2 linked regions of the Homo sapiens genome follow. The protein of the gene in region 1 interacts with the protein of each later gene in a pairwise test. Each region holds a gene or a part of one and is shown in the gene's direction. Other genes may lie near its edges. The genes, in order: RAB29 and CSTPP1.

Region 1 (5,289 bases):
TCTCAGTGAATTGAGGGCTTAAAGTTAAACATATGGGATTGGAGTTGTGTGTCCATAGGGTTTCACTGCCTATTTGATTTGAGTTTATCCCTATTAATTTTTTACAGTGAAATTTTATTAAAGTATAATGTACATATATTTTCAGTGGATTTTGCTCTGAAGGTTCTCCAGTGGTCTGACTACGAGATAGTGCGGCTTCAGCTGTGGGATATTGCAGGTAAAGTGGGAGGGCTAGATAGGAACAAGGGAAGAAATTTTGATTTAACTAGAAAGCTCTGAGGAAAAAATGGGGCAGCAAAGCCAGAAATTGTTTTTCTGAAGCTGGAATGATTGAGCTGCTCTGAGGACACATGAGCTGAATAGGTGCAGAGCTTTTGTAGATGTTTTGCCCTGAATAGATCTGGAGCAGTCTCTATGTGGATGGAGGGGCTGGCAAGGTGGTGGATTGTCCAGACTATAGGTGGACACTCCCACAGCAGGGGAGGGTGCTTTTTCTAGGTTTAAGGCTGACCTTGGTGAAAAACAAGATCCCCAGAAAATAGATACAGTAAAAATAGTGAATCCTTACTATGTGCCAAGCATTCTTCTAAGTATTTTAAATTCACTGACTCATTAATCCTCACATCAACCCTATCATAAAAGCTACTGCTTTTGGAGAATTGCTTGAACCTGGGAGGTGGAGGTTGCAGTGAGCCTAGATGGCACCACTGCACTCCAGCCTGGGCAACAGGAGTGCAGGAAACTGTTTCAAAAAAAAAAAAAAAAAGCGACTGCTTTTATCTTCACTTTACAAATGAGAAATCTGAAGCACTGAGAGCTTGATTTGCCCGAAGTCAAATAGTATGCAGCAGAGCAGGGATTTGGACTGGAGCAATCTGGGTGCGGAATCTGCCTTGGAAATAATTGGGCTTCATTATCCCTTTATGGGATAGAAAACCAAGAGTCAGAGGGGGAAAGTGAGTGGCCCCATCTGACACATATGCTTACTGCCCTCTTCTACAAGGAATGGGGAGAGGCCGGCTCTTGGGTCACCTTGAGAACTCTCCCCTTTCTCCCCAGGGCAGGAGCGCTTCACCTCTATGACACGATTGTATTATCGGGATGCCTCTGCCTGTGTTATTATGTTTGACGTTACCAATGCCACTACCTTCAGCAACAGCCAGAGGTGGAAACAGGACCTAGACAGCAAGCTCACACTACCCAATGGAGAGCCGGTGCCCTGCCTGCTCTTGGCCAACAAGGTATGTGGCCAATCTCAGAAAATGGTCCCTAGCCTCTATCTGTGGTTAGAAAGGAAGTAAAATGCTCTCTGATTCTGGGCATCCATTTCCCCTTCTTAAGTTGGCAAAATCATCTCTACCTCCTTCAAAGGATGTTGAGGGTGAGTGAGACTTTCTTTCTTTTTTTTTTTTTTGAGACGGAGTCTCGCTCTGTTGCTCAGGCTGGAGTGCAGTGGCGCGATCTCGGCTCACTGCCAGCTCTGCCTCCCAGGTTCACGCCATTCTCTTGCCTCAGCCTCCCGAGTAGCTGGGACTACAGGTGCCCACCACCACACCCAGCTAATTTTTTTGTATTTTTAGTAGAGACTGGGTTTCATTGTGTTAGCCAGGATGGTCTCGCTCTCCTGACCTCATGATCTGCCCGCCTCAGCCTCCCAAAGTGCTGGGATTACAGGCGTGAGCCACTGCGCCCAGCCAAGGGTGAGACTTTCTTTGGGAAGAATGTTGATTATAGATTTCCGATGCTGGTGTTCTTATCCATTGGTGGAAATATGTTTAAAATCCACAGTATCTGAGCCATATTCTTTCTTAGTTGCAGGAAGTTTATGATACTGCCTTTTATTTTTTCTCTTTGCTAGTGTGATCTGTCCCCTTGGGCAGTGAGCCGGGACCAGATTGACCGGTTCAGTAAAGAGAACGGTTTCACAGGTTGGACAGAAACATCAGTCAAGGAGAACAAAAATATTAATGAGGCTATGAGGTAAGTAGCTCATGCTGATAGGCATGCAGATGTATCCATCTTCCACTGTGGCCCTGTGGACCCTCTTTTCTTATTTCTGAGCCAACAATGACAGACTGAGCCATTGGAATGCTAGCCCCTAAAGGTCAGGGATACTGTCTTTCCTGAGATAACTGGGGACAAAGGGGCATTTAAACCTTCTGGCTTTACCAAATACTCTCTGATGATAAGTCAGACTACATCTGCCATTTCTGCTTTTCCTCCAAAATAAGCTTCTCAGGCTTATTTTTTGTCTTTTAGAGTCCTCATTGAAAAGATGATGAGAAATTCCACAGAAGATATCATGTCTTTGTCCACCCAAGGGGACTACATCAATCTACAAACCAAGTCCTCCAGCTGGTCCTGCTGCTAGTAGTGTTTGGCTTATTTTCCATCCCAGTTCTGGGAGGTCTTTTAAGTCTCTTCCCTTTGGTTGCCCACCTGACAATTTTATTAAGTACATTTGAATTGTCTCCTGACTACTGTCCAGTAAGGAGGCCCATTGTCACTTAGAAAAGACACCTGGAACCCATGTGCATTTCTGCATCTCCTGGATTAGCCTTTCACATGTTGCTGGCTCACATTAGTGCCAGTTAGTGCCTTCGGTGTAAGATCTTCTCATCAGCCCTCAATTTGTGATCCGGAATTTTATGAGAAGGATTAGAAATCAGCACCTGCGTTTTAGAGATCATAATTCTCACCTACTTCTGAGCTTATTTTTCCATTTGATATTCATTGATATCATGACTTCCAATTGAGAGGAAAATGAGATCAAATGTCATTTCCCAAATTTCTTGTAGGCCGTTGTTTCAGATTCTTTCTGTCTTGGAATGTAAACATCTGATTCTGGAATGCAGAAGGAGGGGGTCTGGGCATCTGTGGATTTTTGGCTACTAGAAGTGTCCCAGAAGTCACTGTATTTTTGAAACTTCTAACGTCATAATTAAGTTTCTCTTGTCTTGGCATCAAGAATAGTCAAGTTTTTTGGCCGGGCATGGTGGCTCATGCCTGTAATCCCAGCACTTGGGGAGGCCAAGGCAGGCGGATCACATGAGGCCAGGAATTCGAGACCAACCTGGTCAGCATGGCAAAACCCCGTCTCTACTAAAAGTACAAAAATTAGCCAGGCGTGATGGCACGTGTCTGTAATCCCAGCTACTCTGGAGACTGAGGTGGGAGAATCGCTTGAGACTGGGAGGCAGAGGTTGCAGTGAACCGAGATCATGCCACCGCACTTCAGCCTGGGTGACAGAGAAGGACTCCGTCTCAAAAAAAAAAGAAAAAAGAATAGTCATTTTTAAACTACCTATCTCATGCAATGAAAGCATTTTCTTCCACAAAGAGCTTAATCCTCATGATAGGATTGCCTAGTGTCTCCCATTTGCAGGTTTCTGGGTTGATGTCTTAATGCATAATACTGCAAGTGACATCAGCTGGCTGTGATGCTTCGAAATAGGTCTGCTCCTCACAGCTTTGGGAATCTGAATGGAAGAAGAAAAGAGAGAAGTTAACAACCTCCACTGGGGCAACTTTGTGAACACGTAGGCACTTAGTCATAGGAAACATATTATGTGCAGGTCCTAGCCTGGGGGAGGAAAGTAGATAGACAGAAAATCATTAGGTAATTTAAGTACTAAATTGGGCAGGGCTTTTTAGTATCAAATCACTACTAGACCATTTAATTTGTTAAATTATCTCTAGGATGGTGATTTATAACCTACCCAAAGTTATCGATATTCTTACTAAACTCTGAGGCCTGAAGTTCTGTGATAGACCTTAAATAAGTGTCCTAAGTCAGTGGTTCCCAAATCTGGCTGGTCGGGAATACCTGGGAAGTTTGTTAAAATTTTTTAAAAATGTTTTAAGATTTTTGGGTCCTGAGCCAGCCGTGGTGGCTCACACCTGTAATCCCAGCACTTTGGGAGGCTGAGGCAGGTGGATCGCCTGAGGTCAGGAGTTCAAGATCAACCTGGCCAACATACTGAAACCCCGTCTCTACTAAAAATAAGAAAAATTAGCTGGGCGTGGTGGCGGGCACCTGTAATCCCAGCTACTTGGGAGACTGAGGCAGGAGAATCGCTTGAACCTGGGAGTTAGAGGTTGCAGTGAGCTGAGATCACACCATTGCGCTTCAGCCTGGGCAACAAGAGTGAAACTCCATCTCCAAAAAAAAAAAACAAAAAGAAAAAGATTTTTGGGTCCCGACCTCAAACCTACTGAATCAGAATTTCTAGGGATGAAGCCTAGGAATGTGTTGTTGTTTTCAGAGCTTCCCTGGTGATTGTGATAAGCCTGGTTTGGAAACCATTGCTGGAGAACTTTGTAAAGATACAGAGACCCAGACCTTTTGTATTTACATTTAAATACAAATACAAATCCTGGGTTTCTATATATTCTGTTAGCTTTTCAGGTGATTCTGCTACACAGACGTTGAAAACCACTGCCCTAAGAAAGAGATCAGAGGCCACATATCAGAGAGAAAAGGGACCAAACCTTCGGTGGTTTGTTGTGTGTCGTTTTAATGCCAATTATTTTAACTTGCACAGTCTTCTGAAACCTTGTATTAATAGTTCTCTTTTGTATTACCATTTTCAGGTAGGGTTTTGATCACTATGATTCTGAAGATAATAGTGAAATAGTGAATTTCATTGATATGAAGAGATAATTGATTTTCATTCATTGGTTTGAACACCTGCAAAATCACAAATAAATGAGAACTAAGTCTTGTATTCATGGTGGTTATTGGCCTTTAATGTGAGTTTGTCAAAGTGCTGTTTTATACTGATAGCTCAAGAGGATTGCGGAAATGGAGACTTTATTTTTTAAATACCTTTTTCTAAATTTTCAATTCAAGGGGTACGTGTGCAAGTTTGTTACATGGATATATTGTGTGATGCTAAAGCTTGGGTTTCTGCTTAGCCTGTCTCCCAAGTAGTGAACATAGCACCCAGTCGGCACTTTTTCAACGCTTACTCCCTCTCTCCCCACTTTTGGGAGTCTCCAGTGTCTGTTGTTCCCATCTTTATGTGTGTGCCCAATGTTTACCTCCCACTTACAAGTGAGAAATGTGGTTAAATACCTTCTTTTAAAATGAAGGTAAATATTATTCTGTTTACCTGTTAACTTACTAATACCAATTGCTTAGATCCATCTGCCTAGTACCAATTCAGTACTTGATGGAACATGCCAAATACTACTTGGAAACGTGACCTTTTTGAAAAACTGAATGTGCTTGCTTTTCCCATTTGCTGACTCAGGATTTACCTGCCTTTTCAAGCATTGTTAGAGGCT
Region 2 (7,292 bases), on another chromosome or scaffold:
CTCATGCCTGTAATCCCAATACTTTGGGAGGCTGACGTAGGAGGATTGCTTGAGGTCAGGAGTTCAAGACCAGACTGGATGATAGAGTGAGACCCTGCCTCTAAAATGCATAGATAGATAGATAGATAGATAGATAGATAGATAGATAGATAGGTAGATGTTTTTAGTGAAAAGCCTACCCCTTTGCCTCCATCTGCCCAGTTTCCATCCATCCTCAGCCTCCCAAAAGTAACCACTATTATTGTTTTCCTGTGTATCTTTCCAGAGTTTATTATATACATAAAGGAGTATACAGTGCATACTTTTTCATTTAATACATCTTGAAGTAATTTCCGTTTCTTTTGTTTTTTCTTTTCTTTCTTTCTTGAGACAGAGTCTCACTCTGTCACCCAGGCTGGAGTGCAGTGGCACCATCTCGGCTCACTGCAACCTCCACTTCCTGGGTTCAAGCCATTCTCCTGCCCCAGCCTCTCAAGTAGCTGGAACTGCAGGCACGAGCCACCACACCTGGCTAAGTTTTTGTATTTTGGGTAGAGATAGGGTTTCTCCATGTTGCCCAGGCTGCTTTTGAACTTCCTGAGCTCAAGCGATCTGCCCACCTTGGCTTCCCAAAGTCCTGGGATTATAGGCGTGAGCCACTGCGCCTGGCCTCGAAGTAATTTCTCAGTCAGTAGGGAGCTTCTTCGTTCTTCATGAAATTCATTTTTAGCTATATAGTATTTAAATAATTTATTTAACCAGTCCCGCACTGGTAAACAAGTTGTTTTTAGCCTTTTGCTGTTACTAAGAATGCTGCAATGAATAACCTGCAGTTTTGTTCCTTTGCAAGTGTATCTGCAAGAATAAGTTCCACAAAGTGGAATTGGTGGATTAAGGGCATATGCATTGAAGTACTTATAGATATTGTCAGATTGCCCTTAATAGGTGTTGTACCATTTTGCCACCAGCAATGAAAGAGAATGCCTGTTTCCCCATTGTGCTGACAACAAAATACATCAAACTTGGATTTTTTTCAATCTAAGTGACAGATAGTCTGAGTAGATTTAATATGCATTTTTAAATGAAGTTGAGTGCCTTTTTACCAAGTTTAAGGGCTGATTGGTCTTTGAAAGCTATATATATACACATATATACATGAACATATATATAGACATATATATAGAGAGAGAGCTTAAGACAGTGACCACATCCATTAATCAGCTAAAAGGGGATATCACAGACAATTTTGTATCTAATGAATAACAGTATCAATGTCAAGCAATGCCTAGACTTTTTTCCAAAGATTTTATGTATTTTATTACCCAGTACTCAATGAATATATGAAATATTTGAAAAGGCTAGTTCATTGTTCAGTTCCTTGGGTGTTTGCTGTTTGAATTTTATGTCTCAAAGGCTTGGCAGATTTGGTGTATTGGTGCCTTGGTGAATAGAAGTTGGTGGTCTCTTCATAAATGGCGTTTTCAGGAAGGCCAATTCAGTGGCAGTGTTGAGAATGAATCTACAAACAGAATCAGAGTCTCAGGTTGGTTGAAAAAGCTTCAATGTTTGTGAAGCCCAACCAATCACCTAATAATTGAATCCTATACAAATGCTTCTTCATGCTTTGTTGCATATTTAAGTGTCTTAATTCCTTGTCCTAACCACTAACTAGACATTCATACTGCCCTCAGCATGGTCACACCCCTCACTGCCTTCTCCTGGTTCATCAAACCGTATCACTCTGCTGAAATGCGTTTGTCTTTAGTTGAGAACTATCCCTGCCTTTTACAATTTGTCTCTCTTAGAGGCATGCTGCTTTGACCTATTCACCCTCAATTTTTTTTTTCTTTTTTCTTGAGACGGAGTCTCGCTCTGTCACCCAGGCTGGAGTGCAATGATGTGATCTTGGCTCACTCCAACCTCCGCCTCCAGGGTTCAAGTGATTCTCGTGTCTCAGCCTCCCAAGTAGCTGGGATTACAGGCACCTGCCACCATGCCCAGCTAATTTTTGTATTTTTAGTAGAGACAGAGTTTCACCATGTTTGCCAGGCTGGTCTCGAACTCCTGACCTCAGGTGATCCACCCACCTTAGCCTCCCAAAGTGCTGGGATTACAGGTGTGAGCCACCACGCCTGGCCAACCTATTCACCCTCAATCTAATGACCGTTTAAAACCACTCCCTACAGAATAGATTAATAAAATATTTCCTGATTTAAATTTTTAAATACCTGTGATTTTTCCATTTGTTTTTATTTTTATACATTATAAAGTTACTTGTATGTGTAAGCCTAAAGAAGACTATACTTATAGAGAAAACAAAACTGCAGACTGGAAAGCCCTAGGCATTCAGTGAAACCCAAAAGCTAAAGTTGAGTTCCCCTTGGTTAGTGTATCTGGAGACCTCTCTTTAGGATTATGGTGTAAATTACAGGGATACCTATCCAAAGAATATCTAGAGATATCCCTTTCTCCCTGCTAGCTAGGGATTGTATTTACCTTTCTGACTATTAGTGAAGAAATCAATCTTTTATCATGTTGGGTAAACTGATCCTTTCCCCACTGACTTTGTAGATTAGGAACCTGTAATCATGGCCTTGCATGGCTTAAGATCTTAAGATCATCACTAAAGAATAGCTTAGTGATGTTCATGTCTGCAGTCATCAGAATGTAGTGATAAAAATTGTGTTAATGCCTAGGCCTGAAGAGAGAAAGGAGAGTCTGGTAAGGAGATGAAATAAGTATAGACCCTCTCTGTAGGACCCGCAAAAGGTTTCCAGCCTTATGAAACCTACTTAGTGGAAGCTTCTGCCAGAGGCTGAAGGTGTGTCTGTGTATCTGGTTGGGTGTGGCGAGCTCTCTAGAGCCAAAGGGCAGCCTGTTCTGGTCCCAGGTTTGCCAAACATACCACCTACGTGCTGACCTGAGTATAAGCATGAGGGCGTGAGGTTTATTTTTTACTCCACCTAATTTGGTGAGGTGCATGCTTTCACTCACGCTCCAAGTTGCCTCTTCTTTTCCATGGAACCTGCTTATTCTCACTACGGTTGATAGTGGGTTAGTATAATAGATAACTCTAGAAATCAAAGATGGCCTTTCTCCTTTGGGGACTAGACATTTAGAAGAATCACAATAAATTGGGTAGTTTTTTTTTTAAGCTATAGTTTTTGAACTCTTCCTATATGCCTGGCACTGTGGTTTATCTCATTTAATTTTCACAACTACCATATGAAGTGGGTACTCTTACTGGTCCCAATTAGTAGTTATTAATATCATCTTCTCATTTTATAAATAAGGAAGCTGAGGCTTAGAAAGGCTAATTGATTTGCACAAGGTCACACAGGCAATGATGCATAGTAAACAGGGGTTCATACCCAGGTTTGTCATATTCCACAGCTTGTGTTTTTTCCTCTTCACTAAAAAGATAAAAACAAACCAAAAAACCCCTATTGGTTCAAAGGGCAGTAATTCTTGCTTCCTTATTAAGGATGAGGCTCTTGCAAATAAATTTCTTGGGAACAAGAATTGTGTTTTACTCATCATTGTCAACCTTCTATCATTGTCTACCTTCTATCACTGTATACCTTCTATCATTGTATACTCTCCTACACTTAATTCATACGTATATGTGAAATGGAATATGAATAATCTGACCTTAGGGTACCCTAAACATGAGTAGCTAACAAAAGCAACCGAGACTTATTAAGAACTTACTCTGTACCAGGTACCATTTTAAATGCTTTACATATATTGATGTATATGAAGATAGTTTCAGTTGTTATCTCCATTCGGCAGATGAGGAAACTACACACAAAGATACCAAATAACAAGTTGTAAGTGGTGGATCCAGAATTCTAACCCAGCAGTCTAATTGAAGTCCACATGGTTAAACTCTATGCTATAAATACTTTGAGCAACTCCCAAAGTGGGGCTCCAACTATTGTGTAGACCTATACGTGGATCCTGGAGTAAGGTCAAGTGATTCCAGTGTCTTCATTTAACATTTCTGCCATGAGGAGGCATCCGAGGAATGAGGATGGATCAGGGAATGGTAAAATTTCCAATTTCTTCTTGCCACTGGACTCATCTCTCAGAGGCAGGCAGTGAGGAAGATAACTTCTACCATTTGGGAGAATTTTATTGACAATCATCTTTGTACTTTGGGTAGCTGTATGACCTAGAAGAAATCACTTAACCTCTCTGTGCCTTAGTTTCCACATCTCCAAAATGTGGGTGGTAATAGTACAGTCATGGTGGCTTACGCCTATATTCCCAGCACTGTGGGAGGCCAAGGAGGGAGGATTGCTTGAGCCCAGGAGTTTGAGACCAATGGGACATAGTGAGACTTCGTCTCTACTAAAAATAAAAAAAAAATAGCTGGGTGCAACAGCATGCATCTGTAGTCCCAGTTACTCAGGAGGCGGAGGTGGGAGGATGGCTTGAGCCCAGGAGGTCAAGGCTGCAGTGAGCTGTTTTCACACCACTGCACTCCAGCCTGGGTGACAAAGTGAGACCCTTTCTCAAAAAATTTAAAAAAGGCCAGGCATGGTGGCTCATGCCTATAATCCCAGCATTTTGGGAGGCCGAGGCGGGTGGATCACCTGAGGTCAGGAGTTCGAGACCAGCCTGGCCAAAATGGTGAAACCCCATCTCTACTAAAAATGCAAAAATTAGCAGAGCGTGGGGGTGTGTTCCTATAGTCCCAGCTACTCAGGAGGTTGAGACACGAGAATTGCTTGAACCCGGGAGGAGGAGGCTGCAGTGAGCTGAAATCTCACCACTGCACTCCAGCCTGGGTGACAGAGTGAGACTGCTTCTCAAAAAAAAAAAAAAAAAAATTGTGCTTGCCTCATACATGTAAGCATTTATCCTGTTAGAGCACCTGTGTAGGTGCTCAATAAATATTAGCTGCTAGTGTTATTACCATATTTTTGTGCAAATACGTAAACATCTGGTGGCAACCAGGAATGTGTGCCTCTCAGATCTCCTACACTGGGGAGGGGAGGGTAATTGACTCCTGACCCCAGCTCTGAATCTAACACCTTGTTCACACTGAGGTCACACTTTCCACAGACTGCTCCTAGTCAATGACTGGGCAGGACAGACCCACTTCCATGAGATGTTTTACTCCTCTAGTGGGTGACTTTGGCTTAAAGACTCTCACTGCACACTGCTAAGTCCCTCATTCTCCCTTCTCCCTCCTAAAGGAGGGATAATAATTAGGGTCCCTCCTAAAGGAGGGATAATAAATTAGGGTCACACCTGCATTTGATCTCTTAGCTCTCCCAGACTCCTCCGGCTTCCTTCCCATTTTCTATCATGGGCGTTTCCCCCAGTACATCTCTCGCATGTCTGATCCTGTTTTGGTGTCTGTTTCTCACAGTATCTGAGCTAAGACAACATCTAACAGTTACTGATATAGTCTCTTCCAGCCATGAGGTTAATACAACTTCTTTAGGACTTGGCAAAGGTTCTGACATAGGACCCCTTCTATGTGGAAGATAAGTGTTACTAATCTTAATTTTTTTTGTATTTGCTGATACCACAGCATATGATAGTTACTTGTCTGACTTCCAGACACATTCTATTTTTTGATTTTGAATGAATCCTGATAAACTTATTTTTATTTGAATATAACTAGTGAGCCTTCCAAACCCAATTCTATTCTAGGAAATATTGCTGTTTACAGTAAGTTAGCAGAAATTCTCTTAGGGCCTTAAAGTGTTTGGTTGCTGCAGAAAGGAAATGAAATAAAATAGGTGTTAAACTGACTTCCTAAATCTTTGGAAACTAGGTTTATAATACATAAAACTGGTCACTTTGAAATGATTATGGGCCAGGTGCGGTGGCTCATGCCTGTAATCCCAGCATTTTGGAAGGCTGAGGCGGGCAGATCACTTGAGGTCAGGAGTTCGAGACCAGCTTGGCCAACATGGTGAAACCCTGTCTCTACTAAAAATATGAAAAATAGCTGGGCATGGTGGTGCGCACCTGGAGTCCCAGCTACTTGGGAGGCTGAGGCATGAGAATCGCTTGAACCCGGGAGGCAGAGGTTGCAGTCCACTGAGATCACGCCAGTGCACTCCAGCCTGGGCGACAGAGCAAGACTCTGTCTCAAAATAATAATAATAAATAAATAAAATAATTATGAACATGTTCACAAAGTCACCTCTTTCTTTCCTTTTCCTCCCCCTACCCTTCTCCTTCCTTTTCTTCCTCCCTGAATACCTTCTCTATATAAAGCCAGGCATGAATATATGAATATAAAGCATCCCTCCCCACAGGAAACTTACACAGTAGATGGGAGATGGGACATATTCATAAATGACCATAACATAAAAAGACAGTATAATAAGTAAAGAGTATGTGACCTATATGGTTCTAGAGCCAGCAGCTATCTTGGCCTTTTCTCAGTTTGGTCAGCAGCTTCTCAGTCATGGAAGGGACAGCAGTTCCCTTGGTAGCCTAGTTCTGGAATGGGCCTTTTGGGAGTTGTTCCTGGAAGGTCGATCTAGATTTTTTTCCTTTTCCAAAGATTCTGTAACCTATTTAATACATGTAATAAATAAATATCTTTTTGTTGGGGGGAAAAAAGAGCCAGTAAGTTCTAAGCCATGTTGTTCCCAACCCTTGCCTACCTCCATTTCTCCAAAGTAAATTGCAGAGTGATGTCAGTGTTATTCTGGGGTTTTAAGATAGCTTTAAAATTTTTGACTTTGTTTATCATTTATATATTCAAGTAATGTTAAAATCTTTATTCCAAATGCTATTCAGAAGTTGGGGATCACTTTTATTTGCACAAATGCAATATGTGCTAAATGAATAATTCTAGGAGGCCGAGTAGATAAATTGAAGTTTTAAAAATAATAGTAGAGCAGGCCGGGAGCAGTGGCTCAACGCCTGTAATCCCAGCACTTTGGGAGGCCAAGGCGGGTGGATCACGAGGTCAGGAGATCGAGACCATCCTGGCTAACACGGTGAAACCCTGTCTCTACTAAAAATACAAAAAATTAGCCGGGCGTGGTGGCAGGCGCCTGTAGTCCCAGCTACTCGCGAGGCTGAGGCAGGAGAATGGTGTGAACCCGGGAGGCGGAGCTTGCAGTGAGCCGAGATTGCACCACGGCACTCCAGCCTGGGCGACAGAGCGAGACTCCATCTCAAAAATAAGTAAATAAATAAAAATAATAGTAGAGCAGAAGAGACATGATCCATTATCCTATTTCTGGTTCATCATCCTATTTATGTCCTTCATAGCACTTATCAGAGTTATCTTGTGTACCTACTTGTATACTTGGTTATTGTCTGTTTCTTATTAG

The links.
Region 2: the proteins of RAB29 (region 1) and CSTPP1 interact in a two-hybrid assay, tested with the Homo sapiens proteins (2 studies listed by BioGRID and IntAct).

What each region holds. Positions count from the first base shown.
Region 1 is NC_000001.11:205,767,424-205,772,712, reverse strand, and holds the end of RAB29 (ras-related protein Rab-7L1), read left to right. Parts: intron 1-145; coding exon 146-217; intron 218-1,059; coding exon 1,060-1,241; intron 1,242-1,858; coding exon 1,859-1,980; intron 1,981-2,259; coding exon 2,260-2,371; 3' UTR 2,372-4,727; downstream 4,728-5,289. UniProt on the Homo sapiens protein: The small GTPases Rab are key regulators in vesicle trafficking. Essential for maintaining the integrity of the endosome-trans-Golgi network structure.
Region 2 is NC_000011.10:46,939,523-46,946,814, forward strand, and holds part of CSTPP1 (centriolar satellite-associated tubulin polyglutamylase complex regulator 1), read left to right. Parts: intron 1-7,292. UniProt on the Homo sapiens protein: Regulator of the tubulin polyglutamylase complex (TPGC) that controls cytoskeletal organization, nuclear shape, and cilium disassembly by balancing microtubule and actin assembly.